4 linked regions of the Homo sapiens genome follow. The protein of the gene in region 1 purifies or fractionates together with the protein of each later gene. This does not show direct contact. Each region holds a gene or a part of one and is shown in the gene's direction. Other genes may lie near its edges. The genes, in order: MCOLN3, ATP8B2, GRAMD1A and DAGLA.

Region 1 (7,022 bases):
TTATGGGGTACAGGTGATATTTTGATGCCAGCATTCAGTGTGTAATGATGAAATAAGGGTAATTGGGACAACATTCACCACCTCAAATATTTACCACTTTTTTATGTTGAGAATATTCTAAATCTACTCCTCTATTTATATTGAAATATAAAATAAATTATTAACTATAGTTGCCATATTGTGCTACTAAACACTAGATCTTATTTCTCCCATCTCACTGTATTTTTTTTTTTTTTTTTGAGATGGATTCTCGCTCCATTGCCAGGCTGGAGTGCAGTGGTGTGATCTTGGCTCACTGCAACCTCTGCCTCCCGGGTTCAAGCGATTCTCCTGCCTCAGCCTCCGGAGTAGCTGGGACTACAGGCACACGTTACCACGCCCAGCTAGTTTTTGTATTTTTAGTAGAGATGGGGTTTCACCATGTTGGCCAGGATGGTCTTGATCTCTTGACCTCGTGATCCACCCACCTCGGCCTCCCAAAGTGCTGGAATTACAGGCATGAGCCACCGTGCCCGGCCCTCACTGTATCTCTATACCTATTAACGAACTCTTATTTATCCCCCACGCCTCCCCAATACCCTTTCTAGCCTCTGGTAACCATTATTCTATTCCAAGCCTTCCTTTGCTAAAGGTAGTTTCCTTGGCTATAGAATTGTAGGTTGACTGTTTTTTTCTTTAGCACTTTAAAGATGTTGCTTCTAGCTTGCATTATTTCTAATGAGAAATCTGCTGTCATCTTTATCTTTGTTCTTATCTATGGGATGTTATTTCCCATCTGTTGGCTTTTAAATTTTTCCTTTATCTCTTACTTTAAAACAATTTGATTGTGAAATGCTTTGATGGTGTTTTCTTAATGTTTCCTGTGTTTAAGGTTCATTGAGCATCTTGGATCTGTAGGTTTATAGTTGTCATTATATTTGATATTTATTCAGCATGATTTTCTTAAAATATATTTGTCACTTCCCCCCACCTTTTCAGAGATTCAGAGACAAAAACGTCTGTATTTGGTTACTTGGAGTTGTCCCATAGTTCAGTAATGATCTGTTTGTTTTATGTCTCAGTTTTTTTCAGTGTGTTTCATTTTGGATATTTTCTGTTGCTATATTTTCAAATTCACTGTTTTTTCTTCTGTGCTATCTAATGTTTTCTAATCCCATCCATTATTTTTCTTCTTTCTTTGGGATTCAGTTTACTGAGATGTGATTGACATTAAGTCCCAGTTTTTTACTCAATAGATATTTAGTGAGCACCTATTATTTGTACAAGTTGGAGGCCCTTTGTGTAGGAAAAGCATGGCTTCTCCGTAGCAAGGATTTCTGACTCAATCAAGTAACACTGAGCGTCCTCCTTGCACGAGGCCATAGGCTGGGTCTTGCAGCCGTTAGGGATATGGGCAGACACTGACTGTGCCCTCAGTTGCTTGTCAAAGAAAGAAGCTTACAATCCCTCATGAGGAGAAATACAGTGGTTGAACTTTTAAAAGTCATTTGAAATCTTATATTTGAAGTGTTTCTGATTACCCCATATGGAGAAGCTTCAATACAATTTATTTAAATGACAAAGTTTTCAAAGAACTTTTTTTCTTCAGGACTTGAGAGAAAGAGAAGAGGCAGAAATGAAACGGATTGATTTTCTTGCCTTGCCTTCCCTGTCCTTGCATAAGGAAGACAGTAGGAAAACTATGGAAGGTGTTCTGGCCTAGCTTTGTCCTGCTTGGCCCCTGGTGTCCTGAAGTGGTTATTCTTGAAGCAAGATGTGACTGTTGACTCCCTGTCACCAAACCCTTTATAATACATGTAGTGCCAACGTGACTAAGAAATCTAGGCCCAGAATAAAAATCAAAAAAGCTCCACTTGAAATGTCTCAAAGCAGAAATAATGAGCCTTTGTATTAGTAAGAATTATAGCAGCACTAAAAATCTACCCCTAACTGAGGTCCTGCCGGAATTTGGGAGAAAGCACAGTTGTACCAGTTCTTGCTCACATGAAGAAGGTATCTGGAGGTACTTAGAACAGAGAGCAAGAGGAAGTGCTCTTGTTATATAAGTTCTTTGGAGTGGAAATGCTGCCCTAGACATATAATGTTTTAGAGACTACAGGGTCTCTGTAGAAGATCTAGTTCATCGTTCTCATTTCACAGAGAAATGAAGAGAACTTCCCATGGTTGAACAGAATTAGCAACAGATCAGAGTTGAGAATCTGGGTCTCCTGTCCCCTTGAAAGAATTGTTTCCTAATTAATGTGTAGAGGTTTCTTGGCTCCAAAACTATAAGTATGTTTTTGACTGTTTTCCTGTCTTCACAGATAACATTTGACAACAAGGCCCATAGTGGAAGAATTAAAATAAGTTTAGATAATGACATTTCCATCAGAGAATGTAAAGACTGGCATGTATCTGGATCAAGTAAGTGATGCGCATTACTAGTTTTCAGAATGGTTATTAAATAATGTAAAATGGTTATTAAAATAGCACCCTCTGGATATCTAGAACAACAAATAGAAGATTAGACCATTTTCAAGTCCCTAAACCTCTACAAGTAGATCAACTCTGATGTTTCAGGCAATATGTGAGTCATGAATAACTGAAATGGCCTTCCTCTCCTTGTGCCCTCACTTGCCCACTCCTGACCAAGAATGTACTCACAGTCCCCCGCCACCAAAACCCTACATACATCTTCCCAGACCAACACTTACCGAGTGCATGCTGTGTACCTACTTCCACCTTAGTTTTCTTCATTTTAATATTTTTAAATGCCCTTAAGATAGGGAGAATCCTTATTTTTACAGATGAAGAAACTAAGGCTCAGAAGCCAGGGGCAAGTCAGGTAGGATGTGACCCTGCAGCATCCCACATATTATGATTGTCTTCAGTCCATTTAAAAGTGTACTGAAAGAGGAAAGGATCTACTCTTAGAAATATGGACAAAAATTCAGGTGTAGACCAAATACTGTCAAGAATTTTGGAGCTGAACTGGAGAGAATTGCCTGGAAAGAATTTATCTAATTTTCTAGTCTCTCATAAGTGACATAATGGTACATCGTACTGGACTTAATGGTCGCTAGATGAGGAGTTCTCAGATTCTAATCAGCAGAAGAATCATCCTGGGTACCTGCTATGATGCAGTTTCCCCAGCTCTATGCAAGCCAGTAGGTCTGGGGTGGGGCCTAGAAATGTGTAAATAGTCCTTACTCAGACTATACTTGGATAATCACAGTTCTAAAGTTTCTTACTAATTGATTTGCCAAGTTCAGACGTAATAATGAGATAGAGTAAATAAAATGAAATTTTGCCATGATAGTATTTTTTTCACTAATAGGTAACTTCAAATATATGAGGCTCTTGAGTCACATTTGAAACATAAGCCTGTTTTGTCATCTGTATACTTTATAATCATTCTCCACAAACACCAGAATGAGGAAAATGACAGCATACACAAGTGTCTGGCACCTAGGCATTCTCTCAAATGTTTGTTTCTTAATTTGTAAGTTTCTCTAAAGTCAATTTAGACATTTATGTAGTAATTATGCTCCTTGGCAGATACTAATGGGATGCTTCATCACAGAGCTAGTTTTAAGTACTTTCTTTTTTTTGTCAGCAGAGAGCAGTCTAACTTGTTAAATAGAGACAAGCTCTGTGGCAGTGTACAATGGCTGACACCTCTGCCCACCTCTCTCCATTGGCTCCACGCATGGTGGCCAGGACTTCGCACTTTCGATTCTCCAAAATCTCCATAAGGGTGGCTCTTTCTTATCACTCAGGTTTCAGCTAAAACCCCCTGCTCCCTCAGTGAGGCCTTCCTTTACTATGCAATATAAATCAACCTCTCTGCTTCCACATTGCCCGACACTAACCTCCCTCATATAGAGCAGTAGGTCTCAAACTTTAGCATCACCTGGAGGGCTTGCAGAAACCCAGTTTCTGATTCAGTGGGTCTGGAGTAGGACCTGAGAATGTGCATCTCTAACAAGCTCCCAAAAAATGCCAAGAACCACTGACATAGAGTGATGGACACTGGAAACAAACTGCACAGATTTTCCCCCAGCTCTTTCACTGACTAGCCCTGCAACTGTGGGGAAATCATGTGACCTCTCTGTGCTTCAGGTTTCTCGCCTGCAAAGTGGGGATAATCATGCTTACCTCATTGGAGTTGCTGTGAAGATCAAATAGGTTAACACATATAAAGTGTTTAGAGCTATGTTTGGCAAGAAATGTGCTCAATACATGTTAGCTATTGTGATTTATCTTCTTTCTATTACTTACTCCTATCTGAAAGTATTTTGTTATGTGTTTGTTTACTTCTTTGTAGTAGAATAGAAGTTCCACAGATCAAGGGCCTTGTCTATCTTGTTCACCACTGTATCCTAACATCTAGAAAAATGCCTGACACATAGTGAATGCATAATAAATATTTTATACCTAGATAAGTACATTTTAATAGAATATGCAGGGAGATGGGCCTGGGCATGGTGGCTCATGTCTGTAATCTCAGCACTTTGGGAGGCTGAGGTGAGAGGATCACTTGAGACCAGGAGTTCAAGACCAACCATGGCAACAAAGTGAAACCCTGTCTCTACAAAAAAATTAAAAATTAGCCCGGTATGGTGGCATACCTATAGTTCCAGCTACGAGGGAGGCTGAGGAAAAAAAAAAAGAATATGCAGGGAGGTAATTGTATTAAGAACAAAAGACTACAGGCTTATAATTAAAGATCTTGGAATGATAGTTGTGGTGATTTTTCTTTTTTTTTTTTTTGAGATGGAGTCTCGCTCTGTCACCCAGCCTGGAGTACAGTGGCATGATCTTGGCTCACTGCAAACTCCACCTTCCAGGTCCACGCCATTCTGCTGCCTCAGCCTCCCAAGTAGCTGGGACTACAGGCGCTCACCACCATGCCCGGCTAATTTTTTTGTATTTTTAGTAGAGACAGGGTTTCACCGCATTGGCCAGGATGGTCTTGATCTCCTGACCTTGTGATCCGCCTGCCTCGGCCTCCCAAAGTGCTGGGATTACAGGCATGAGCCACCACACCCAGCCTCAGTTGTGGTGATTTTTTAAAAGAAAGACTTTTGCCCTTCTTCAAATACTAATTGGAAGACCGTTTATCAGGGCTTCTTTGTTGTCTTACCAGAAAGAATGCTTGAATTATTTAAATGATTCTAAAAAGAAGATGTCACCATATTAATGTCCCACTACATAAGCACTATGTAATCCTCTTTGCTTTCAGTTCAGAAGAACACTCATTACATGATGATCTTTGATGCCTTTGTCATTCTGACTTGCTTGGTTTCATTAATCCTCTGCATTAGATCTGTGATTAGAGGACTTCAGCTTCAGCAGGTAGGGAACGTTGCTTTCTAGGAATGCTACTGACATTTTGATTGACAGAGACATTCACTGTGCCTCCCCTCTTTTCCCTAAAGGAGTTTGTCAATTTTTTCCTCCTCCATTATAAGAAGGAAGTTTCTGTTTCTGATCAAATGGAATTTGTCAATGGATGGTACATTATGATTATTATTAGTGACATATTGACAATCATTGGATCAATTCTAAAAATGGAAATCCAAGCTAAGGTAATTTTTTTCCTAATCATGCTATTGTTAGTGTCAGATTTGCACTAATGGTAATGTATTTTTCCAGAATGTAAGAATTTTCAGAATGAATTGTTTCTTCCAAACTGTATATCAAGTAGACTTGAAATTGGTAATGGTAATTTTCTTAAATCTAGTCAGGAGGTCTCTTAGGCAGAGTTTTTCAAAGTGTGATCCACAAACCATTGCATCAGAATCATTGGGTGCCTGGTAAAGTGTACCATGTTAGACCTACTGAATTCAGACTCTTCGGCGGGGCCTGTGAATTCTTACACACACCAAAATTCATACACAACCAAGGTAACTAAGGTAAGAGTTTTTTTTTTTTTTTTAATCTTACAAGAAATGCTCGAATCTTTAACAAAAATGAGTGGGGCTATAGGGGAAAGTGAGGTCAAGGCACTATGGTGTGCATGCTTGCATTTGTTTCCTCCGTCCATTCAAAGTGAGAATGCTCCCATTTTCTTACTTTACCATTGATGTGCTACAAGCTTATTTATTTTAAGACTAACCTAGCCTAAAAATCAACTGTCCCCACAAAATAAAAATCACATTAAAAAAACTAATAGTGTTCAGACTAATCTTGCTCAAACTTATGTTTCCCTAGTCTTGATGCAACTGATTGAGTCACCTGGGGAGTTGGTTATAAACCTGGGCAGAGACCCCAAATGCAATGGCTCAGAGAAGATAGGAGCTTATTTCTGTCTTATGCAATAGTCAGAATGGGTTTTACAGACTGGTGAGTAGCTCAACATCTCACAGTCATTCAGGCACCCATGTTCCTCCCATTTTGTTTCTCTGCCACCCCTTAAGGACTTGCCCTGACTGCATGATTATTGCCGTGTTGCCTCAAACAGGTTGCAGCTTATGGGAAGCAAAAACACGGTATGGTAGAAGCTCTCCCATAGACTGATGGCTTGGCTCAAGAGTGGCCGACTTTATTTCTGTACATATCCCACTGGATAGAATTTAGTCAATCCTAACTGCAGAGGGAGCCAGGGAACACAGCCCAGGCATGTGCCTAGGAAGGGGAGAATGGGTTTAGGTTGACACTTAGCAGCTGCCACTATATGTGGCTATAGTATGTATCATTGGAATAGATGTTTAACTTTAGGGACAAATAAAAAACCAAAACAAAAAAAGGAGTAAGGGGAGAGATTTGCAGCAAATCTTTATTTTTACCAACCTCAACTATCATTAATTTCAGTGAACCCTAAATGGTATCCAACAAAATATCTTTCTAGACCATTCACCGTCTCTGCCTCATAGATGATCATATCATGTTTTCTTCTCTTCTGAAACCTCTAATACCCTTGTCCTATCCTCATTCTAAGCTGATGACCTTACTTCCTATTTCACAAAAATAATAGAAAAAAAAAACAGAATTTCCACAAACCCCCACCTAATTTATCTGCCTCCTGCCATCAGTGCCAA
Region 2 (7,022 bases), about 69 Mb from region 1:
TGGTTTTTCCGCGGGCGGGGGTGTGTGTGTGTGAAAGCGGTTGCCCCCGACAACGCCGGCAGTCCGCTCACCCGCATTGGCCCGGCCCGGGGGTGGGAGGGGAGGCGGGGCTCGCGCGCGAGCTTTCGCCTACGCGGCGCGCTGGCAGGCTGCGGCTCCTGCAGTCGGGGAGCGGGCGGGGGCGGAACCCTGGGCGTGCTCGGCGTGTCCGGGGCCACTCAGCGCACGCTGGCATCCGCCGGGGGGCATGGGGGGCGGCGGCGGCGGCGCAGCTGAGCTCGCGGTGTCCCCGAGCGCCGGCGGCCGGGAGGATGGCCTGGGCTGCGGGTGGGGCGCGCGCCCGACGGCTGGGGCTCCCCTCTGAGCGGCTGCGGCTCCTGCACCTCCCCGGGGAGCCGCCCCGTCGATGCCACTAAGGCCAAGGACATATAGACGGTCTGCCCTCCCCCACTCAAACCGGGATCATGACGGTCCCCAAGGAGATGCCCGAGAAGTGGGCCCGGGCCCAGGCGCCTCCCTCTTGGAGCCGAAAGAAGCCCTCTTGGGGGACAGGTAACGGGAGGCAGCGCCTGGCAGCTCTCCCGCACCCATTATTTCCCCCCTCCAATCCCTACATTCACTTGTCCCCAGCCTCCCCCTACCTGCCTTGATCCTCTTTCCAGACCCAGAGATCCTGGCTCCGAAGGATCCAGTCCCTACCTTCTTCGTTTGCATGGTCTTTGGTGATTGCGCAGGGGACTTGGCCCAAGAGAGCCCCTCTAGGGAAGTTTATGGGAGTGAAGTGGCTTGGTAGGCAGGGGGCACTGTGGCCTGGGTTTTGTTACTGCAGTGTGCTCTGCAGGGGTCCTGGGGTGTGTAGAAAGGGTTCTGGAATGCTGTCTTTGGCTCCCGGACAGGCTTAAGGCATTAGGTTTGCTGCCTAACCAAGTTACCCCTTTTTGCAGCATGAGGTCATGGTGACCCCCGGGGAGACGGGCTGGGGAATCTATTATAGGACAGCTCCTTGTTCTGGGACATGAATTTGATGCCTGCAGTCCCAGACCTGCAGAGGTTTCAGATAGGTTTAGCTAGATAGGTGTCACTAACTGAGTGACAGATGAGCCCTTTAAAGCTAAATGTGTGCAGATGGTACAAGGAAGGTCCAGTTAGAGAGCAACTGTTTCAATTACATTTCATTCCTCCCTCCTCTATCTCTATCTCAGTCTGCATGACCCATATCCCTGAAACGCACCCCCCACACCTTTTTCTACTTGAAGATGAGCTTTGAAATAAGGTGATGTCATTTCGGGCCAGTCAGAAGCAGTTGCTGGTGACATGTGACAACCAGAGGCTCCTGTAGGGGGGACTGCACATGGGGCTGGGATGCTCCCGCAGAGCAGCTCCAGGGCACAGGGAGCCTCCTTCTTGCCACCTACCCCACTCTCTAAATAAGGGAGAGAGCAGTACCGCGACTAGATCTGCAGTGGTCCCCAGGGGGAAGGAAGCTTTGCGTTTTCAGCGCTACTCCTTGATTATGACAATGTATGCATTAGTAATAGCAGCAAAAGGGGCTGGGGAATCCCAGGACTGTCAGTGGCTCAGATTCCTCTGGAGTGGGGGTGGGGGAGACAAACTGGGTGCTTCCAGTGGAAGACCTTGAAGTTTGGTGGTGAGGAAAAGAGAACATGTCCTGTCCTGTGAATGTAACCTGGAGAGCCGTGTGGTCAGGCTGCTGGTGAGAGGTGGACTGGAGGGAAGAATTTGATGACCCCCTCAGTTGTGGAGCTAACTCCTTAAAATGATATTCTGTGGAAAAAAACAGGGAACCCCCCAGCAAAGTGTTGGTCCAGACCTCAGTTTGCTCCTCCTGACTGCAGCATCATTTTGTTGCAGAAGAAGAAAGGAGGGCGCGGGCTAATGACCGAGAATACAATGAGAAATTCCAGTATGCGGTAAGCGACTCTAGACCACCTGTTCCCTCTCTCTGTTTGGAGAGGGGAATGGGGCAAGGACAACCTACCGTTGGGACTGAGGGCTGCCTGGGAAGAGTGCTTGGGGGAGGGGAAGCAACCTCCTCAGCCACTCTCCATCTGCTATCGTGCTGAATTTTTCATGCCTTCACCTGTCAGTGAAGCAGAATACATTGACCCCCTTGAGACTCCCTTCTCTCCTCCTCTTTCCCCCTCCCACACCTGTGTTTGCTAGCTTTTGGGGTAGAGGTCTGGGGAAGTATAAAGATGGGGGAGGCAGCCTCAGTCTGGTTCTGGGTTGGGACTGGAGACTGCTCATTATCTTCTCTCCTACTGCCATAGAGTAACTGCATCAAGACCTCCAAGTACAATATTCTCACCTTCCTGCCTGTCAACCTCTTTGAGCAGTTCCAGGAAGTTGCCAACACTTACTTCCTGTTCCTCCTCATTCTGCAGGTAGGTGACCCATAGTAGATTTTTTGCAGCTCCCCAAACTGAATAAAGCCAAGGAAGAGGAAAGGGAATGAAGGCATCAGATGGGGCCTCAGAGGCATACTTCTCTTTCTTTTTTTCAGTTGATCCCCCAGATCTCTTCCCTGTCCTGGTTCACCACCATTGTGCCTTTGGTTCTTGTCCTCACCATCACAGCTGTTAAAGATGCCACTGATGACTATGTGAGTGGTTTTCATTCTTCTATTTTGTCCCAGTCACCCACCCCTACTCCCAGCCCCACCCCCATCTCATGGCCACCTTCATCCAGCACAATTTCTTGGTGACCTTGACATCCCTTACCCGGTCCAGCTAGATCCATGATGTCTTTTTGCTGAGCGTGGGGAGAGGGAATCAGGGAGTGAACTGGTTTGTGATGGGGTGTGTATGAGGCGTTAACCAGCATGCTCTGAGTTCTACTGATCAACGAATTCCTTCGAGGCGGGGGAAGGTGTCTTACCTTTCAGTTTTCTTCTTTTCAGTTCCGCCACAAGAGCGATAACCAGGTGAATAACCGCCAGTCTCAGGTGCTGATCAATGGAATGTGAGTGCCTGTTGGAGACAAGAGCTCTGGGGACGAAGGGGGTCCCTTAGGAACCTCTTTAGCTCCTGACAGCCTCTTCACTGTCTTCTCGTTGCCTCAGCCTCCAGCAGGAGCAGTGGATGAATGTCTGTGTTGGTGATATTATCAAGCTAGAAAATAACCAGTTTGTGGCGGTAAGGGACAGGGTACCCCTCTAGGCCTGTAGGTTCTTCCTCTTCTTTGTGAGAAAAGGATGAATCTTTCCTGATTTACTGTTGCCTCTTAAACACCCGTGGCAGGAATCTTTCTCACACCAGGGGCTTCTGTGTCATGCTGATATGCCTGGAACTAGCCATTTATGCACCTGGAACTAAGCAAACCAAGAATGCTTAGTGGAAGGAGCCACCATTACAGCCCACTGGGGGTGGAGGTTTGCATATTTGGACTTCTCATTAGTTTTTCTCTCTAGGCGGATCTCCTCCTCCTTTCCAGCAGTGAGCCCCATGGGCTGTGTTACATAGAGACAGCAGAACTTGATGGGTAAGTGGCATGCTCAGTGTCAGCCCTCTCCTTCTGTCTCTTTGGAGGTAAAAAGATTGTCTTTGAATGAGGTTCTCAGGCCTGGGCTCTGTCTGAATTTGGAAAAATTAGGGGTAAGAAAGGCTTTGGATGGGATGTGTGAAGTGTTATTCAACCAGTATTTGCTGGGCTGAGCAGTTATGCACCATGCTTAGGTGTCACCAGGTAGAATTTAGAGGATGGGGAGAGGTGGGCATGGTGACTCACTCCTGTAAATCCCAGCACTTTGGGAGGCCAGTGTGGGAGGATTGCTTGAGGCCAGGAGTTTGAGACCAGCCTGGGCAAGATGGTGAGACTTCATCTCTATAAAACAAACAAACAAAAAATTTAAAAAGTTTAAAACTTAGCTGGGTATGGTGGTTTTAATGCCTATAATCCCAGCCACTTGGGAGGCTGAGGCGGGAGGATTGTTTGAGCCCAGGAGTTCGAGGCTTTAGTGAGCTATGATTGTGCGACTGCACTCCAGCCTGAGCAGCAGAGCGAGACCCCATCTGTGAAAAAAAACATTTAGAGGATGAGGAGGGAGCGGGGACTCAGAGATACTGTCCTTCCAGCGAGACCAACATGAAAGTACGTCAGGCGATTCCAGTCACCTCAGAATTGGGAGACATCAGTAAGCTTGCCAAGTTTGACGGTGAGTAATTTTGGAGGAGCAGCCTGAAGGTAGAGGAGTGGGGTTGGGTTTTGTTTGGGGGCGTTAAATTATACATTTTCCTTTGGGCTTTTTGTTGTTATTATGCAACTCCCTGGACTGTTTTGGGGAGGGGAGTGTTTGTAATGTCATGTGGCTCCCTCTTGGTTTTGAGTTTATAATTATTTCAAGGGGACTTTGTGGCTGATAGCTCCCCACTTGCTATGCATGTTGAGAGAAATTCAGCTTATTCTTTTAGCTTATTAGCTCAGAATAATAATATGTGTTCCTTATAAGACAAACCATACAGAGTGTATAAGAAAAAGTGAATAGAGGTCGGTACCATGGCTCACGCCTGTAATCCCAGCACTTTGGGAGGCCGAGGTGGGCGGATTGCCTGAGGCCAGGAGTTCGAGACCAGTCTGGTCAACATGGTGAAACCCTGTCTCTATTAAAAATACAAAAATTATTAGCTGGGCGTGGTGCTGCATGCCTGTAATCCCAGCTATTCAGGAAGCTGAGGCAGGTGAATCCCTTGAACCTGGGAGGCGGAGGTTGCAGGGAGGCGGAGGTTGCAGTGAGCTAAGATCGTGCCACTGCACTCCAGCCTGGGTGACAAGAGCGAAACTCTGTCTCAAAAAGAAAAAAAAAATACAAAAATTAGCCGGGCGTCGTGGTGTGCATCTGTAGTCCCAGCTACTTGAGAGGCTGAGGCATGAGAGTTGCTTGAACCTGGGAGGTGGAGGTTGCAGTGAGCCGAGATCGGGCCACTGCACTCCAGCGTGGGCAACACAGTGAGACACTGTCTCAAAAAAAAAAAAGAAGAAGAAAATAGCTCTTCCTTCCTCTTCTACCCTGCTGAAGTAGCCACATTAATTGACAGTCAGTGTGTGCTCATCCACACTTTTCATACATGTTTGTACAAACAAATATTAGGTCATGCTGCAGCTTTTTTTTTTTTTTTTTTTTAAATACTCCTGCCCAGGTTGGAGTGTAGTGGTGCGATCTCGGCTCACTGCATCCTCTACCTCCCAGGTTCAAGCGATCCTCGTGCCTCAGCCTCCCGATTAGCTAGAATTACAGGCTCCCACCACCACACCCGGCTAATTTTTGTATTTTTAGTAGAGACAGGGTTTCACCATGTTGGCCAGGCTGGTCTCAAACTCCTGACCTCAGCTGATCCACCCGCCTTAGCCTCCCAAAGTGCTGGGATTACAGGCATGAGCTGCCGCGCCCGGCCTGCTTCATTATTTTCCTGAAGAGTTGCATCAGCTCACACTCCTCCCAGCAGCATATGGATGGGCCCTTGCCCTTGCATCCTCTTCGCTCAGCTCATTTTCTCTTTGTTTTATTGTCTTGTGGTTAGGCTGTAGACTGGACCTTAAGCAGTGGAATTCTTGTCTCCTGTTCAGGTGAAGTGATCTGTGAACCTCCCAACAACAAACTGGACAAATTCAGCGGAACCCTCTACTGGAAGGAAAATAAGTTCCCTCTGAGCAACCAGAACATGCTGCTGCGGGGCTGTGTGCTGCGAAACACCGAGTGGTGCTTCGGGCTGGTCATCTTTGCAGGTGAGCCTCCTAGCATCCAAAGAAAGAAGGGTAAGAGTGACTCAGCCAGCCCTCACTCAGGAGTATGGGATGAGGTGGGAGAATACCTAAGGTAAAAAACCTCCAGCTGTGTATACAGGCTTCTTATCTAGCCAGTATCTCTATTCCACCCTGGTGTCCTGCAGTCTGGGGATCAGGGCAGAAGCCCAGAGGCAGATGTGTTATTTGGCTTTCCCAGCCCTTCCCATTCTTTTCCAGGTCCCGACACTAAGCTGATGCAAAACAGCGGCAGAACAAAGTTCAAAAGAACGAGTATCGATCGCCTAATGAATACCCTGGTGCTCTGGGTGAGGCGCCCCACATCTGGCTCCCTGCCCCTGCCCTCTCTTCTCCTTGGGTGCTCCTTTTCCTTTCCTCTTTCTTCTTTGGTCAGTAGACTTCAGGTTTGGCTTTAAAGCTGCTAGCAGGTCAGCTACACAAAGGCAGTGTTTATTTTAGGCTCCTTTTAGTTGGAAGATGTTATTTAAAAAAACTTCAGGAACGTGCATGAATCAACAACTTAAAGCTAAAACAAATCATCCCTTCTCTGATTCCAGTTATGATGATGACTTTGTGAAGCATGTGACCTTCTGTTTGCTTTTGCCAGGGACAAGGAGGCCTTCATGGGGATGGAGAGGGAATTAAAAGAAAAATTTCCATTTGGAAGAGGTTGGCAGGGTCTTTTCCCCCCAACTTCTAAGAACGAAGGATCCCAAAGGAAAAGTTTCTGTTTAAGTTTTTGGCAGTTCCTGAATCCTTCTCTTGTTTAGCTAGAAATCTGAACTCCTTGTTGGGCTCTCCTCCCCTTCCTGTGCCCCGACTGTCTGCTGCCTGCCCGCCACATGCCAGCTTGTGAAGGCTGGGGCTAGCCTCTGGTGAGCTTGTTTCCGCCCTGGCTTTAAAGAGTGTGCGGAAACCCAGCCTGGTGGGCGAGGTTGTCTATCACATAAGGGCTCCAGTCGCCCCCTGGTGGCCATTGGGCACCAATCTCCTATTTTGTTTCAAAGCCTAAACAGCGGAGGCAGCTTTGGAAATAGATGTAGGAAATTGGACAGTGGCCTGGTTTTTTACCAGTCTCTCCAGAGACTCCAAAATTTATAAGATTTTTGACTAATCAGGAAATCTAGACCAGGAGTGGTGGCTCACACCTGTAATCCCAGCACTTTGGGAGACCAAGGTGGGAGGATCATTTGAGCCTAGGAGTTCGAAAACAGCCTGGACACCATAGTGAGACCCTGTCTTTACAAAAAACTGAAAAATTA
Region 3 (7,022 bases), on another chromosome or scaffold:
ATGTAAGAATGGCCTAATACAGAGCTCCTCAGCCTGACACGCCAGCCCTTTTAGGACATAAGCATAGTTTTGGGGGCCTTGTAGCCCCCCAACACAAGGCACCATCTTCCTGACTGCAGGGGATACTGCATGTCTCATCAATACAGAAAAAGAAACAAAGAGAAACTCCCATCTGACACGCTCCTCCCCTGCTTGAATCTCTTTTGTAGCCTCCCAAGTTCCTTGGCTGGTCCCATGTCAACCCTTCAGCCTCACCCAGAGCTGTGGCTGCCCCTCTCCATACCTGGCTGCCCCATCCCAGCCTCAGGGGACTTCTCTCAATATTGGCCTCCAGCCTCAGGGCCTTTACTGGTATCACGCGGCCTCCTGGGCTCCTCTGCCCCGACCCCTTCCTTCCTCAGTTCCTCCTTCAGGCCTTGGTTTTGATTTCACATCCTCCTGGCAGCCTTCCCTTACCTTCCTCAGATCCCAGATACCCCCAGATACTCACAGCTTCTGCCCTTAACTCACACCATGCCAGTAGTGTGTGGTTTTTATTTATAGATATTTCCTGTTGTTCTCAAGAGATTCTGGGTGCTAAGGACAGGAGTTCATCTATCCTGGTCTCCCACTGGCCTCCAAGCCCTGCATAGGCCTGACAGAGTGGACATTAAATTTGTGATCATTAACACATATTTATTTATTTATTTATTTATTTTTGAGTCAGGTTCTTGCTGTCGCCCCAGCTGGAATGCAGTGGCACAGTCTTGAGTCACTGTAGCCTCTGCCTTCTGGGTTTAAGCCATTCTCCTGCCTCAGCCTCCTGAGTAGCCGGGATTATAGGCGCCCACCGTCACGCCCAGCTAATTTTTGTATTTTTAGTAGAGACGGGGTTTCACCGTGTTGGCCAGGCTGGTTTCAAACTCTTGACCTCAGGTGATCCTCCTGCCTCGGCCTCCCAAATTTCCCGAAGTGCTGGGATTACAGGCGTGAGCCACTGTGCCCGGCTGCCTCAGGGAGCTTTTGATCATGCTGAAAGGCAAAGGGGGAGCAAGTGAGAGAGAGTGGAGGGGAGGTGCCACACACTTAAATGACCAGATCTCGGAAGAACTCACTATCATGAAGACAGCAGCAAACCATGAGGGATCCGCCCCCATGATCCAAACACCTCTCACCAGGCCCTACCTCCGGCATTGGGGATTACAATTCAACATGAGATTTGGGTGGGGACAAATATCCAAACTATACCAAACTCAGACTCTGTTCTAGGGGTACTGGGGAGCCATGGAGTGTTCTAGGCAGAGAAGGGATAGAGTCAGGCTTGGCTTTAACAAGATGCCCCTGGACCAGATGGGGAGACTGAGGCCAGACACTCAAGGGAAGGCTGGCAGGGGCACTGGGCAGGCAAAGATGGGCTGAACCAGGAGTGACGCTCAGGAGGTTTGGTGAACACACAGTGTAGGTAACCATCTAGGGGTTTGAGTAGGGGGTGTCCAGGGCAAGGCCTACCGCTCCAGTGGGAGCCTGGAGGACCCTGGGCCACCCCTGAGTGGGGGCCTGGGAGATGCAGCAGGTTTGGGGAGATGCTGAGGCTGTGTGGAGCTCGGTGGGTTCGAGGGGTCCAGGGACCTTCCAGGGGAAGGTGTTCAAAAGATTACAGGTCCAATGCTCAGGGCAGAAGCCAAGACGGGTGCAGAGGGGGAAACTGAGGCTGCAGCAGTGGAGGAGATGGCCCTGCCCCAACAGCTAAGGTTTTAGGCTCCTGGAAGGAAGGTGGGGACACAGAGGAGTGGTGGGGATTGGGACAGGTCCCCAGAGAGACCTCCCAGAAGGCTGAGTCTCCTGTGGCCTGTGGGCAAAGGACTGGGGTGTGGCCTCCTCATGCTGCTCCTCCCTCCTCTAGACGTGACGCTGAGCCCCTGGAGTGGGGACAGCAAGTGCCACCAGCGCCGGGTGCTGACGTACACCATCCCCATCAGCAACCCACTGGGCCCCAAGAGCGCCTCCGTGGTGGAGACACAGGTGGGCCAGGTGGGGCAGCCGAGTGGGTGGGGCAGCTGGGTGAGTGGGGTGGCCCTGACTTCTCCGGCTCTGTCCCTGCAGACGCTGTTCCGGCGCGGCCCCCAGGCCGGCGGGTGTGTGGTGGACTCCGAGGTGCTGACGCAGGGCATCCCCTACCAGGACTACTTCTACACTGCCCACCGCTACTGCATCCTGGGTCTGGCCCGGAACAAGGCGCGGCTCCGGTGAGTGGTGGCTGGGCCCCTCCACCCGATGCCCTGGTGGCCCCAGGGCCTCCTGTCCACTCCTCAAGTCAGCAGCAGAGCCTTGGTTCCCACCCTGGTGGAGGAACAGAAGCGTGGGGTTCCTGAGGCCCTTGTCCTCCGAATAGTGGAGGGTAGAGGAAGAGTGGCCCTGGGATGGCTCCTCCCATCTACAGAGGGTGTTTGAGCCTCAAGACTCTGAGGATACAGCAAAGCCAGGCAATATCACCTCTCTCAGGGAGCTCATATTCTAGTGGGGAATTGGACAATAGAGAAATGATCAGGAAAATCTGCAGAACATTCACTGGCAGTTAGGCCTATGGAGAAAAATGAGGAAAACACGGCAGGCTAAAGAAGCAGGGTGTGGAGGCTTTTACACCCGACACGCTGGTCAGGGAAGGGCCTACTGGGAAAGAAATGTTTCACCAAGAACCTGAAGGAGCTGAGAGCAACTCATTTGGGACAGCAGGTGCAAAGGCCCTGAGGCAGGGGTGTGGGCAATGGCTGGAGTGGAGTAAGATTGAGTGAGTAGGAGCTGAGATTAAAGTGGTGAACCGGGGCCCGGCACAGTGGCTCACACCTGTAATCCCAGCACTTTGGGAGGCTGAGGCAGGAGTATCACTTGAGCCCAGGAGTTCAAGAGTAGCCTGGGTAACGTACGGAAGCCCTGTCTCTACAAAAACAATTTTTTTTAAATTAGCCAGGGTCCAGGTGCAGTGGCTTACGCCTGTAATCCCAGCAATTTGGGAGGCTGAGGTGGGCGGATCACTTGAGGTCAGGGGTTCGAGACCAGCCTGGCCAACATGGTGAAACCCATCTCTACTAAAAATACAAAAATTAGTCGGGGGTAGTGATGCACGTCTGTAATCCCTACTACTTGGGAGGCTAAGGCACAAGAATCACTTGAACCTAGGAGGTGGAGGTTGCAGTGAGCCGAGATCGGGCCACTGCACTTCAGCCTGGGTGACAGAGTGAAACTCTGTCTCAAACAAACAAACAAACAAACAAAAAACAAGTTAAAAAATTAGCCAGACATGGTGGAGATTTCAGTGAGCCATGATCACACCGTTGCACTTCAGCCTGGGCGACAGAGCAAGACCCTGTCTCAAAAAAAAAAAAAAAAAAAAAAAGGTGAACCAGATGTGGCTCATGGTGAAGACTTGACTTTACCTGGAGTGAGGTGCAACCAGGCCAGGGCTCTGAGCCAGGAGGGCGCTGACCTGACTCAGGTGGTCCCAGGCTCCTTCTGGCTCCCTCTGTTCTGGTGGGAACAGACTGCAAAGACAGGTACAGGAGCAGGGAGGCCAGGGAGGAGGCTGCTGGGACATCCAGGCTGGAGGGGACGGAGGCTGAATCAGGGTGAGGAAATGGAGGGGGAAGAGTTTAGATTCTGGAGAGATTTTGCAGGTTTAGCTGACAGGATTTGCTGAGAGATTGGATGTGGCGGTGAGGGAAAGAGAGCTCAAGGAATATCCCGAGGCATTTGGCCCAAATCACTACAACTTCGGAGCTGCCCTTGACCCAGATGGGGGCGGCAGGGAGGAATGGGTTTGGGGAAAGACCAGGAGGTCAGTTTGGGACTCAGCTGTCTATGTTGAGCTGAGCCCATGTGGAGCTGGGGTGCAGCAGCCGAATGGAAGAGGTTCAGGGGCATGGTCTGGTTAAGACGTCAGTCTGTGAGTAGACAGGGCTCAGGCCGCCGGGAGCGTTGCCCAGGTAGTGGGCATGGGTGGAGAAGGACCGAGGGCTGAGTTGGCTGGCATTTGGGCTGGGCGGGTGGTGTATGGGGTATCCAGGGAAGCCATGGGGGGTAGGGAACCCATCTGTTTTGTCTGTGAGTGACAAGGGGCCCTCTCTGAATTAGGGGAAGGAAAAAACTCAGCTTGTGGGACGGGGCAGCCAGGGCTGGAGTCAGACCCTTACCTCCTTCCCCTGATCTCCCAACCCCAGAGTGTCTTCTGAGATCCGCTACCGAAAGCAGCCGTGGAGCCTGGTGAAGTCGCTCATTGAGAAGAACTCGTGGAGCGGCATTGAAGACTATTTCCACCATCTGGGTAGGGACAGAAGGCCGGCTGGGGCGTGGGTTGGGGGATGGCCTGGCCAGGTATGGACATCCAGAGCCCCCTCTCTTTTACGCAGAGCGAGAGCTCGCCAAGGCTGAGAAGCTGTCTCTGGAGGAAGGCGGGAAGGATGCCCGGGGCTTGCTATCCGGCCTGCGGCGGCGGAAGCGGCCCCTGAGCTGGCGGGCTCACGGGGACGGGCCCCAGCACCCAGATCCTGACCCCTGTGCCCGGGCCGGCATTCACACCTCGGGTACGTTCCGTTGGGGCCGGGTTGGGGTAGGCGGAGGATCGGGGGTCCTGGACTGGGCCATCTGACTCCAAGCTGCTCTCCTGCAGGCTCCCTCAGCTCCCGCTTCTCCGAACCATCTGTGGACCAGGGCCCCGGGGCAGGCATCCCCAGTGCCCTGGTTCTCATCAGCATTGTGTGAGTAAGAGACAGGAGCAGTGGCCACACAGGCCTGAACCTGCCTCCTGGCTGTGTGACCTTGGGCAAGTGTGTGGCCTCTTTGAGCTCTCTGCTTAAGTGGGAGCGTGGGTTTGCTCACAGCAAGGATTAGACAAGGCAATGTTTGGGATGTGCCGGTTTGTCATGGAGAAGCCTTCCCTGCTAGAACAGCAGAGCCGGGGGGGGCTATGGGAGATCAGAGGGGCCTGACCTCACCCAAGGATCAAGGGGGGCTTTCTGGAGGAGCAGGCACACAAAGATTCTGGAATTAGGTGCACAGGGAGAGGTGTGCCTAACAAGTGAGGTCATTTATGGACATTATGTTCTCTGTGCCCACTCCTAAGCTGGGCGATGCTGAGGACACCGCAGTGACCTTGAGGAAAAGATAGACCTCACACCAGACCAGAGTGATCCGGGCTGGGATGGGGGAGGTATGGGCAGAGGGGTTGGGGCTGGGAGTGGGGAAGCCCTGGGAGGCCAGCGGCGGCTTCCTCCCAGGCCAGAGGGGGCAGTCAGGATGGGCGTCCTGAGAGAGTGGAGACCGCGTAGGCTAAGGGCTTGGGCAGGGAGAACCCACACTCCTGCCCAGAAGCCTGCAGGAGTTGGCGGGCAGGACGCTGGGAGGAAACAGAAGCAGGATCCCGGGGTTGAGCAGACCCTGCGAGGTGAGGGTCAGGCCAGCTACATGCTCAGCCTCTGAGCCTCAGCTCTCAGCTCTCATCCAGTGAGGGGGCGTGGTGCTCTCAGCCAAGAGCTGCCCCGGGTGAGGAGGGCTGGGGGTGTCGGGGGCAGGCCAGGCGGCGCTCATCTCTCTGTCTCCCCTCACTGCTGCTGCTGCAGGATCTGTGTGAGGTAGGGTCCCGAGTCCTCCCCCTGCCCTCCCCTCCCTGCACCCCACCCCTGCTGCAGCCTCTTCTCCCCACCCCATGCCCCCCAGCTCCCCCAGGGAGGTGGCCTGGCATGGCAGTCAAGGGTATGGGCATCAGACAGACCTGGGTTTGAACACTGACTTCCCTGCTATGGACTGTGCAACCCTAGGCATGTCTCTCATCCTCTCTGAGCCTAATTCTCCTCCTCTGCAATGGGGGATAGAGGTGTCCCTACAAGATGTAGTTGTTTGGGGGTGTTCAGAGCATCTAGACCCCAGGAATCCTGACCTCTGACCCCTGTCCCCAGCCTTATCATCCTCATCGCCCTCAACGTCCTGCTCTTCTACCGCCTCTGGTCCCTGGAAAGGACAGCCCACACCTTTGAGTCCTGGCACAGCCTGGCCCTGGCCAAGGGGTGAGTGGGTAGCCTGGGGAAATGGGGGGGCTTGGGCACATCGGGGGAGGCCAAGGCCCTGCTCAGGCCTGGCATCCCCACAGCAAGTTCCCCCAGACGGCCACAGAGTGGGCCGAGATCCTGGCGCTGCAGAAGCAATTCCACAGCGTGGAGGTGCACAAGTGGAGGCAGATCCTGCGGGCCTCCGTGGAGCTCCTGGATGAGGTAGGAGGCGCCGCTCGGGCAGGGCTCGGGGCTGCGGGGCTGCAGGGTCCTGTGTTGAAACCCCACCGTGCGGCAGGCACTTCCCCTCTCCGGATCTCAGTGTCCTCCTCTGTAAAATGAGGAAGCCGCTCAGAGTCCCCACCCCACAGCATTGCAGGGGAAAGCATGGAAGCATGGATGGAAGACAGAACTGATTGGCTCACGTCCTGGAGAAAAGTCCAGAGGCGTCTCACATTAGGCACGGCCGGGTTTGGTCACTCAATGGCAGTAAGAGTCAGTCTCTCGTGCCCACTCTGCCCTGTGCCCATCTCCAGGGTTGGCTTCATTGGAGGCCACCCTTTTCCCCCCACAGGGGACCACGGAGCTTACTCTCATTGGCTGCTGGGGTCCCAGGCCTACCCCTGACACATCACAACAGCCAGGGCAGGCCACGTGTGGTCCCTCTACCCGCTACCCCACTCTGGGGTAACTAAGGGGTCACATGGTCTGAAGGGGAGAGACTCTCCAAAGGACCTGAGGTCTCATCTCCAAAACGGAGTGGACCCAGACACCCAGTGTAGTTCAGGGACAATGTCTACTCAGACAACCAGGTTCCAATTCCGGTGTGTGACCTCGTGCAAGTGATTTTGCCATGGTGGCCGTGGACTCCTCTGTGCACAGGATAATGACTGATGCTACCTCAAAGACTGTTGTGAGGATGAGACAAGTTGACATTGGGAGTGGTGCCAGGCCTGCAGGAAACACTGGATGTGGGCTGGCTGTCCTGAGTTTGAGCCTAGTGCC
Region 4 (7,022 bases), on another chromosome or scaffold:
CTTCCCATCTTTGTCAGCTGCATGTGCCTGGCATTCTTGCCTGCATCCCTGGGAGTCCCAGCTGTGGCAGAGAACTCTTCAAAATGAGCACCAGGCTCCATTACTCACTGGTGGTGTGGGGACAGCTCTTAGAGCCTTTGTTTCCTAAACTGTAACAGGTGGTATCTGTCCTGCCTGCCCATAGGGTGTTTCAGAACCCAGGGTATCACTGGCAGGCAGGGCTCTCTGGTGCTCTGCAGACAGGAGGGGTGCTGGCATTTGTATTAGGTGCCTTAGTGTTGCAGAGAGAGCAGAGTCCCTAGACCTCATGAGGGCCCAGCCAGGCCCCTGCCTGGAAGAACCAGGTGCCTGTGGGGCAGAGAGAGGCAGGCCTGCAGCCCAGGGTGTTGGGAGGAGGCCAGAGTCCAGTGCCCCAGCCTGTCCATAACAGCCTGGCCAGAGGGAGAAGGGCTGCCCATCTGCCTCGGGCCCAGGCCTCTCCCCTGGCAGCAGTTCTCAGCCCATGCAGAGCACAGCGAGCCAGGCCTGCTTCTGGCTTGGCCCTAGCCCTGCCCTGGATGAGCCCCAGGGCCCTCCCATCCGGGGTGCTGGCCCTGCTCCCCTGACTGGTCCTCCTGGCCCACACATCACTGACTCAGAGGCAGCCCTGTCACCGGAGAAGCGAGGAGCCACTCGTTATTAAGAACCTATTATAGGCCAGACCATTTCTGCATCTTGGACCCTTGATCTCACACCAGCCTTGTGAAGTAGCTGTCACCACCTGCTCTTACAGAAGAGGAAACTGAGGCTTAGAATGGCTGAGTGACCTCCAGGCCCTTGCGGTCAGGAAGTGATACAGCAAGGGTTCAAACTCAAGCCTCCAGTCTCCAAAGGCCACACTGTTACAGCCTCATGCTCAGCTGAGGTTGGAGAGGGAACAGCTGCCGAGCACAGGAGCTCAGCCCCTAGACCCTGGCCCATCACCACTTGACCTGCAGTGTGGGGGACCATGCTCTCCCATTGTACATCGGCTTTGTCCCCCCAGCAAGCACTGTGGCTTTCTCAGCAAAGTCTCTCCCCATTGGAAAGTGTGTAATAGTCACTCAGGTGATGCTCTGAGTGAAGACAAACCTCCTAGCATCACCAGAATCCAAGCTTCTTAATAAAATCTCAGCTGTCATCCCGTGACAGCTGGCAGGCCCAGTCACGTGGGCTCCAGCGTCTGGTGCCTTAGCAGTTGGATGCTGGCTCCCTCTGGTGGCCTGAGGTGCCGCTGCACCTAGCTGGGTGCCCAGCTCCCAGGCTGCCTCATTCATTTCTGTGGGGAGGCTACTGTGTACCTGGCCCTGTTTGGGTGCTGGGGATACAGCTGTGGACCTCTCTGTGGTGCTCACTGCCCAGCGAGGAGGCGGACAGCGCATAGACAAGGCAAATAGGGCACATGGTGGAGCGGATGGGCACTTTGGACCCACATAAAGCCAGGTGCCTGGGATGGGGAGTGCTGGGGGCCTGGGGAGCCCTGGCTGTTAGATGAGGTGGCAAGAGAGACCTCACTGTGACAGGACGTTTGAACAGAGGCCCAGAGGAGCAAGGGCCAGGCCACGCTGTCTCAGGTGCTGCTGAACACGCTGGCAGCAGGTCAGAGAGACCAGAGCCAGGTGGGGTAGACAGGGCGTTGCTGTAGGGTCTTAAAAAGAAAATGATGTGGCTCAACTTATCTTAAAAGGGCCACTCTGTTGCTGAGCTGAGAGCGTAGGGGCAAGTGCAAGGAGGCCAGTCGAGGCCACCATGACAGTCCCAGGCAGAGCTGCCAGGGCAGGGGTAGGGGAGGTGAGGGAGTGCCTGGAGTCCAGCTCTGAGTCTGAAGGGAAGCCGAGTACGTGTACTGACCGAGTGGCATGGCCGTGGGGGTGAGGGCTGAGGAGCCACAGACAGTTGCAAGCCAGAGGCCAAGCCACCGAGGGGCCTTGGGAAGACCTCAGGAGGGTTGGGGTACACAAGCAGGGAAGGGGTTTGAGAGCTGGCAGGGTGTCAGGTGTCCGAGAGAGGTGCTGGCTAGGCCATTGGATGGAAGCATCTGGGTGTTGGGGCAGGCCTGGGGTGGATTCCTGAGCATGCAGATGGTGTCTAAAACACAAGACTGCATGAGTGCATGGAGGAGCCAGTGCCCCCAGAGGGACCCCAGGGCTTCAGTGTTGGGTGCATCGCTGAGTAGGCCCTGCCCGGAGGGGAGATCCCAGAGAGGAGGGGGCCCCAGCCAGGTGGGGAGAGGGAAGGGCCCACAGGGTCAGGTGCCGCCAAGAGCTCAGTTAAGAGGAAGGCTAAGAGTGGCCAGTGGATTTGGTGACGTGGGGGTCACTAGGACTTAGCAAGGGCAATTTGGTAGAGGCAGTGGGGCTGAATGCCCAACTGGAACTGGTTCCAGGGACAGTGGCAGGAGACATTTGTTCCCTCGGGGACTCCCTGGCCCTGAACTCTCTTGTCACCCCACCCTAGGTGTTGCCTGTGTCCTGCGAGGCCGCGGTTCGCCCCTGGAGTCACCATCGAGGAAGACAACTGCTGTGGCTGTAATGCCATTGCCATCCGGCGCCACTTCCTGGACGAGAACATGACTGCGGTGGACATCGTCTATACCTCCTGCCATGATGCGGTGAGGCCGGGCAGGGCTGGGGCCTGGTGTCAGGAGCAGGCAGCTGAGGGCCTAGGGTGCTGAGGCTATCCTTCCAGGCCGGCAGGAGCCCTTGCTTGGCTGGTGCTGGCTGGCTGCAGCTTCCAGGCATCCCTAGCTGGGCAGACCAGAGGTGGCCCCCTTCTCTTCCCCAGACCCTGGCTTGCCTGTACCACCTCTGGGGCTGGGAAAGCAGACATCAACCCCACACCCAGTGTTTGGGTTGCCGAGCCCTAGCCCTTTAGGGAAAGGAATTGAGGGCAGAAGCAGGGAGGGGCAGCCATCACCTGGACTCAGGGGCAAGTGGTGGCACTCAGGGCTGCCAGAGCCAGCAAGGAGCGGGGAGGGCAGGGCAGGCCTGTGGCTGGGATCGGGAGGAGATCCCCAGTGACCCTGGGAGCCCGTCAGCCTTTCTGGCGGCAGAGGCTCCGTGGCTGGTGGAGCCAGAGTTCCTGGCCAGGAAGGAGACCTGCCTAGGTCACTTTCCCTGAGTGTGGCCCCACCAGGGCCGCTCAGGCTCACGAGCTGCCCGCCTCCTAGGTCTATGAAACGCCCTTCTACGTGGCGGTGGACCATGACAAGAAGAAAGTGGTGATCAGTATCCGGGGGACCCTGTCCCCCAAGGTACGCTGCCCATGGCTCCCAGCCCCCGGGGGTGCCTGCCTCCCTCTTCCTGTCCTCTTTAGCCGCCCCCTCACCTGTCTCCTCTCTCCCCAAGGATGCCCTGACTGACCTGACGGGTGATGCTGAGCGCCTCCCCGTGGAGGGGCACCACGGCACCTGGCTGGGCCACAAGGTAACCCACGTCATGGACCCCAGGGCCCCTGGGCTTCTTTCCTGCCCTGCCAGTGTGCAGAGGCGTGTATGGTTGGGGGTTCCTCCCTGCTCGCTGGGCTCACTGGAAGAGATTGGTCAGAGAGGCATGAATTAGTCTGGAAGGCCCGTTGCGGCCCACTGCTGCGACCCCACTGCCCTGCACAGCCCAGAGCCTGACCATGGAAGAACCTGAGAGGCAGCTGCGGAGAGATCATACCAGCTTCATTAGCCACACTGCCCCTCTGAGCCTCAGTTCCCACCTGTGAAATGGAAGTGACAGGATCAGCGTGTCTGCCAGCCCCCACAGCTGGGTTGTCACGAGGCCCAAAGGGAAAAATGGATGGGGCAGGGTTCCTGAGCTGCAGGTCACTGTGGGTTTGCTGGTCACTGGGAGGCCTCCCACCAACACCTGCTTCTGTTCCTGCCCACCCAGGGTATGGTCCTCTCAGCTGAGTACATCAAGAAGAAACTGGAGCAGGAGATGGTCCTGTCCCAGGCCTTTGGGCGAGACCTGGTGAGGAATTTTCCATGGCACCAAGCCTTTTCACACCTGGGTCCCCCTCCTCCAACGCAGCACAGAGAGGAGAGGATGGATGGGTGATGGAGCCTCACAACTCCCACACAAGCCAGGCTCCTGCAATCCCTTCCAGCCTGGCTCCCAACCCCTCCTCTTTTGTGCCAGGTCCTGTGGGCATCCTGCTCCGCCCCACCTACAGTCATTGGGCACCTGATTCATGCCAGACACTAGAGGCACAAAGATGATTCAGGGCAGACGGCTTTTAAGCCTCATAGCTGCAGAACCGTTTGTCAGAAGGAAACATGGAGAGGCTCAAAATACAGAGCAGAGAGAAGGGGTGCTGCTCTACCTAGGGGGGAACTGAGTCCTGCCCACTGGCCACGGTCTGTGCAGGTAGCTCCTGAGGTGCCACCAGCTGCCCTTTCCAAAGCAAAGCAGGCTCTGGCCTCAGGAGACTTCAGTCTAGTAGTGAGGGTAGAGAGATGGGGTCAGGTAACCACATGTTTATAGTGATAAAAAGCTCCATCCCAGGTACAGATGCAATGACTAGAGGGAGTGAGCCACTCCTGGAAAATCAGAAGGGCTTCCCCAAGGACATAACCTCTGAGCAAGGTTTGGAAGCGTAAATAAGAGTTTATTAGAACAGTCTGCCTAAGCAGTCGCTCTGTGGGGCCCTATCTTGGTTCTCTGTGCCCTAGCATTCACACAGCACAGACAAGATCCCAGGACTCTGGGAAGATGGGAAGACCCTCTGCCTCCCTTGGGTTGGCTAAGACAGTCGCTTGGCGGGCATTGGGGCAGGGCTCTCAGGCTTCTCTCGGTCTCCAGGGCCGCGGAACCAAACACTACGGCCTGATTGTGGTGGGCCACTCCCTGGGCGCGGGCACTGCTGCCATCCTCTCCTTCCTTCTGCGCCCACAGTATCCGACCCTCAAGTGCTTTGCCTACTCCCCGCCAGGGGGCCTGCTGAGGTGAGCCATCTGGGGCTTCAGAGTTGGCTGGGGCAGTTGGGACCAGTGGAGGCTGAGGGTTGGCTGGTGCTAGGGGCTGGACTGGGAGTCTGACTTCTGGTCACATGGAGGTCTGGGAGTGGCCTGGAGGGTGGAGGGTGGGGGCTCTGAAATGCCATGCGCCCCCCAGGATCTACCTAGCAAAGCCTTACCAGTGGGAAAGACAGAGCAGGGAGCAGGCAACCCAGCCTGCCACCAGCCAGCTCCCCGGGAGCCATCCCAGGAGTGCAGGAGCAGGGCTTGCTTGTGGCTGGGCCCCCCGATTCCGGAACACCACCACCCCGCCCCCTTGGCCTTAGCTTCTGCTTCGGCTTCCCTTGCAGTGAGGATGCGATGGAGTATTCCAAGGAGTTCGTGACTGCTGTGGTTCTGGGCAAAGACCTCGTCCCCAGGTGAGTCCTTGGCCCCGCTCCATGGTCCCTTGCCAGGCTGTTCCTCCCTCCTCCAGGCCTCTCCCCACCCCCAGCCCCCGCATCTCTCTCAGTCCGATTCCTGTCTCTCAAGGGACCCCACGCCCCTCCCCACCCTTAGTTGCCCAGTGGTGAGAAGCCCAGGTGAACGCACGTGCTGGCGCCCGCCCTGCCTGTCCTCTCACTCCTCAGCTCTGCTCTGGGGAGCTGCTCTGTGGACACCTCTCCACCCCGTGACCCTGGCTGACGTGTCTTCTTGTTCCAGGGGCTAGGCGTGTGCCTGCCCCTCCGCCCCTGGCCCCATACCTCTCATAGCCGCTGACCAGGCCTGGCTGACGGCCCTGTCTCGTTCCCTCCCCAGGATTGGCCTCTCTCAGCTGGAAGGCTTCCGCAGACAGCTCCTGGATGTCCTGCAGCGAAGCACCAAGCCCAAAGTGAGCCCCCACCTGGGCACCCTGCCTCTGTGCAGCCTCATCTGTCCCTGCCCTTGACCCCCACCGGTTTCTTGGGACAAAGCACAAGAGGCCCTGCCATGGAAGGCCAGGGCAGGGTGTGGCTGGTGTTGTGGGAACTTCAGGAAGTCAGACCCTCAGCATCCCCAAGCTCAACCCATCCATCCCCTGTCATTGTGCAGATGGGGAAACTGAGACCCAGAGTGGGAGGGACTTGCATTTGCTCACATAAAAAGTTAGAACAGAATCAGGACAGGAACCGAGAGGCTCCCATCACACAGAGCTGGGAGCTGCCCACAGTCAGGAGAAAGCGATCTGGAGGCTTTGAGCGGTGAGGAAAGGCCTCTGCCGAAGCCTCTGAGATTCCCTAGGCTCAGGGAGGGCTGGGAATGACCTGTGGAGAGGATTTGGGTACAGTTTGTTCTGATTTTCTGCTGTGACCAAGAGGAGAGGGTCAGCCCTTCCTAATCCGCATCAGGTCTCTGGAGGACACTGGCAGACGGGGTGGCCAGGTGGGGGTGGGGACATGGTGGCCAGGCACACTGAGGCAGGCCAGCGCAGGAGGAGAGGGTCCTCTGTGTGGTCACCCCTCCTCACCCCCTGCCCCCCGCCCCCTGCCCCGGGCGAGCCCTCAGCCCATTCACCATCTCAGCCCCGTCTGGACCGTTCCCAGCTTTGGTGCCCTAGACCCTGTGGCAGGCAGGGCCCTGGGCCAGGTACCAGGTGCCAGGCAGTGAGCAGGGCAGCAAAGCTTTGTGGGACTTTGCCTGCCTGGAGGAGCCTGGTTCTGGGGAGGTGGAACTGCTCCCACCAGATTAGTCCTGGGCTTTTGTCAGGCCAGGCCTGGCAGGTCCAGCTGGACTCAACTCCAGGGTGTGTTTGGCCTCGGACTTGTGGAGTGATCCAGAATAAGTCCCTTCCCCTCACTAGGCCTGTCTCCCCATCTACTAGATGAGGGGTTGGCTGGGCTTCCAGCCCCTTGCCAGCCCTGAAATTCAACAATTCCATGTCATCTGTCCTTGGCACCTTATTGGCCGTCTGGCCACCGTGCACCTCAGCCACTGCCTCTTCAGGTGGGCACCGACCTTTAATGCTCTGGCCACTGCCCTTCCCCTGCCCCTTTGCCATCTTACTGCCCACCTCTCACCTGCTGAGCCCCCCTTCTCGGTC

The links.
Region 2: the proteins of MCOLN3 (region 1) and ATP8B2 purify together in Homo sapiens (affinity purification with mass spectrometry; 3 studies listed by BioGRID and IntAct, with this or other methods). This does not show direct contact.
Region 3: the proteins of MCOLN3 (region 1) and GRAMD1A purify together in Homo sapiens (affinity purification with mass spectrometry; 3 studies listed by BioGRID and IntAct, with this or other methods). This does not show direct contact.
Region 4: the proteins of MCOLN3 (region 1) and DAGLA purify together in Homo sapiens (affinity purification with mass spectrometry; 3 studies listed by BioGRID and IntAct, with this or other methods). This does not show direct contact.

The regions. Positions count from the first base shown.
Region 1 is NC_000001.11:85,024,487-85,031,508, reverse strand, and holds part of MCOLN3 (mucolipin-3), read left to right. Parts: intron 1-2,303; coding exon 2,304-2,403; intron 2,404-5,224; coding exon 5,225-5,337; intron 5,338-5,420; coding exon 5,421-5,570; intron 5,571-5,725; coding exon of another isoform or gene 5,726-5,896; exon of another isoform or gene 5,897-6,952; intron 6,953-7,022. UniProt on the Homo sapiens protein: Nonselective cation channel probably playing a role in the regulation of membrane trafficking events. Acts as a Ca(2+)-permeable cation channel with inwardly rectifying activity.
Region 2 is NC_000001.11:154,328,524-154,335,545, forward strand, and holds part of ATP8B2 (phospholipid-transporting ATPase ID), read left to right. Parts: intron 1-274; exon of another isoform or gene 275-464; coding exon of another isoform or gene 465-552; intron 553-1,872; coding exon 1,873-1,931; intron 1,932-2,291; coding exon 2,292-2,405; intron 2,406-2,524; coding exon 2,525-2,623; intron 2,624-2,920; coding exon 2,921-2,982; intron 2,983-3,082; coding exon 3,083-3,155; intron 3,156-3,430; coding exon 3,431-3,501; intron 3,502-4,094; coding exon 4,095-4,174; intron 4,175-5,583; coding exon 5,584-5,742; intron 5,743-5,979; coding exon 5,980-6,068; intron 6,069-7,022. UniProt on the Homo sapiens protein: Catalytic component of P4-ATPase flippase complex, which catalyzes the hydrolysis of ATP coupled to the transport of phosphatidylcholine (PC) from the outer to the inner leaflet of the plasma membrane.
Region 3 is NC_000019.10:35,017,309-35,024,330, forward strand, and holds part of GRAMD1A (protein Aster-A), read left to right. Parts: intron 1-1,882; coding exon 1,883-2,001; intron 2,002-2,082; coding exon 2,083-2,225; intron 2,226-4,193; coding exon 4,194-4,297; intron 4,298-4,382; coding exon 4,383-4,556; intron 4,557-4,642; coding exon 4,643-4,730; intron 4,731-5,591; coding exon 5,592-5,603; intron 5,604-5,927; coding exon 5,928-6,035; intron 6,036-6,118; coding exon 6,119-6,239; intron 6,240-6,388; coding exon of another isoform or gene 6,389-6,433; exon of another isoform or gene 6,434-6,477; intron 6,478-7,022. UniProt on the Homo sapiens protein: Cholesterol transporter that mediates non-vesicular transport of cholesterol from the plasma membrane (PM) to the endoplasmic reticulum (ER).
Region 4 is NC_000011.10:61,732,374-61,739,395, forward strand, and holds part of DAGLA (diacylglycerol lipase-alpha), read left to right. Parts: intron 1-2,475; coding exon 2,476-2,629; intron 2,630-3,187; coding exon 3,188-3,271; intron 3,272-3,365; coding exon 3,366-3,443; intron 3,444-3,896; coding exon 3,897-3,977; intron 3,978-4,808; coding exon 4,809-4,951; intron 4,952-5,313; coding exon 5,314-5,382; intron 5,383-5,761; coding exon 5,762-5,834; intron 5,835-6,803; coding exon of another isoform or gene 6,804-6,925; intron 6,926-7,022. UniProt on the Homo sapiens protein: Serine hydrolase that hydrolyzes arachidonic acid-esterified diacylglycerols (DAGs) to produce the principal endocannabinoid, 2-arachidonoylglycerol (2-AG).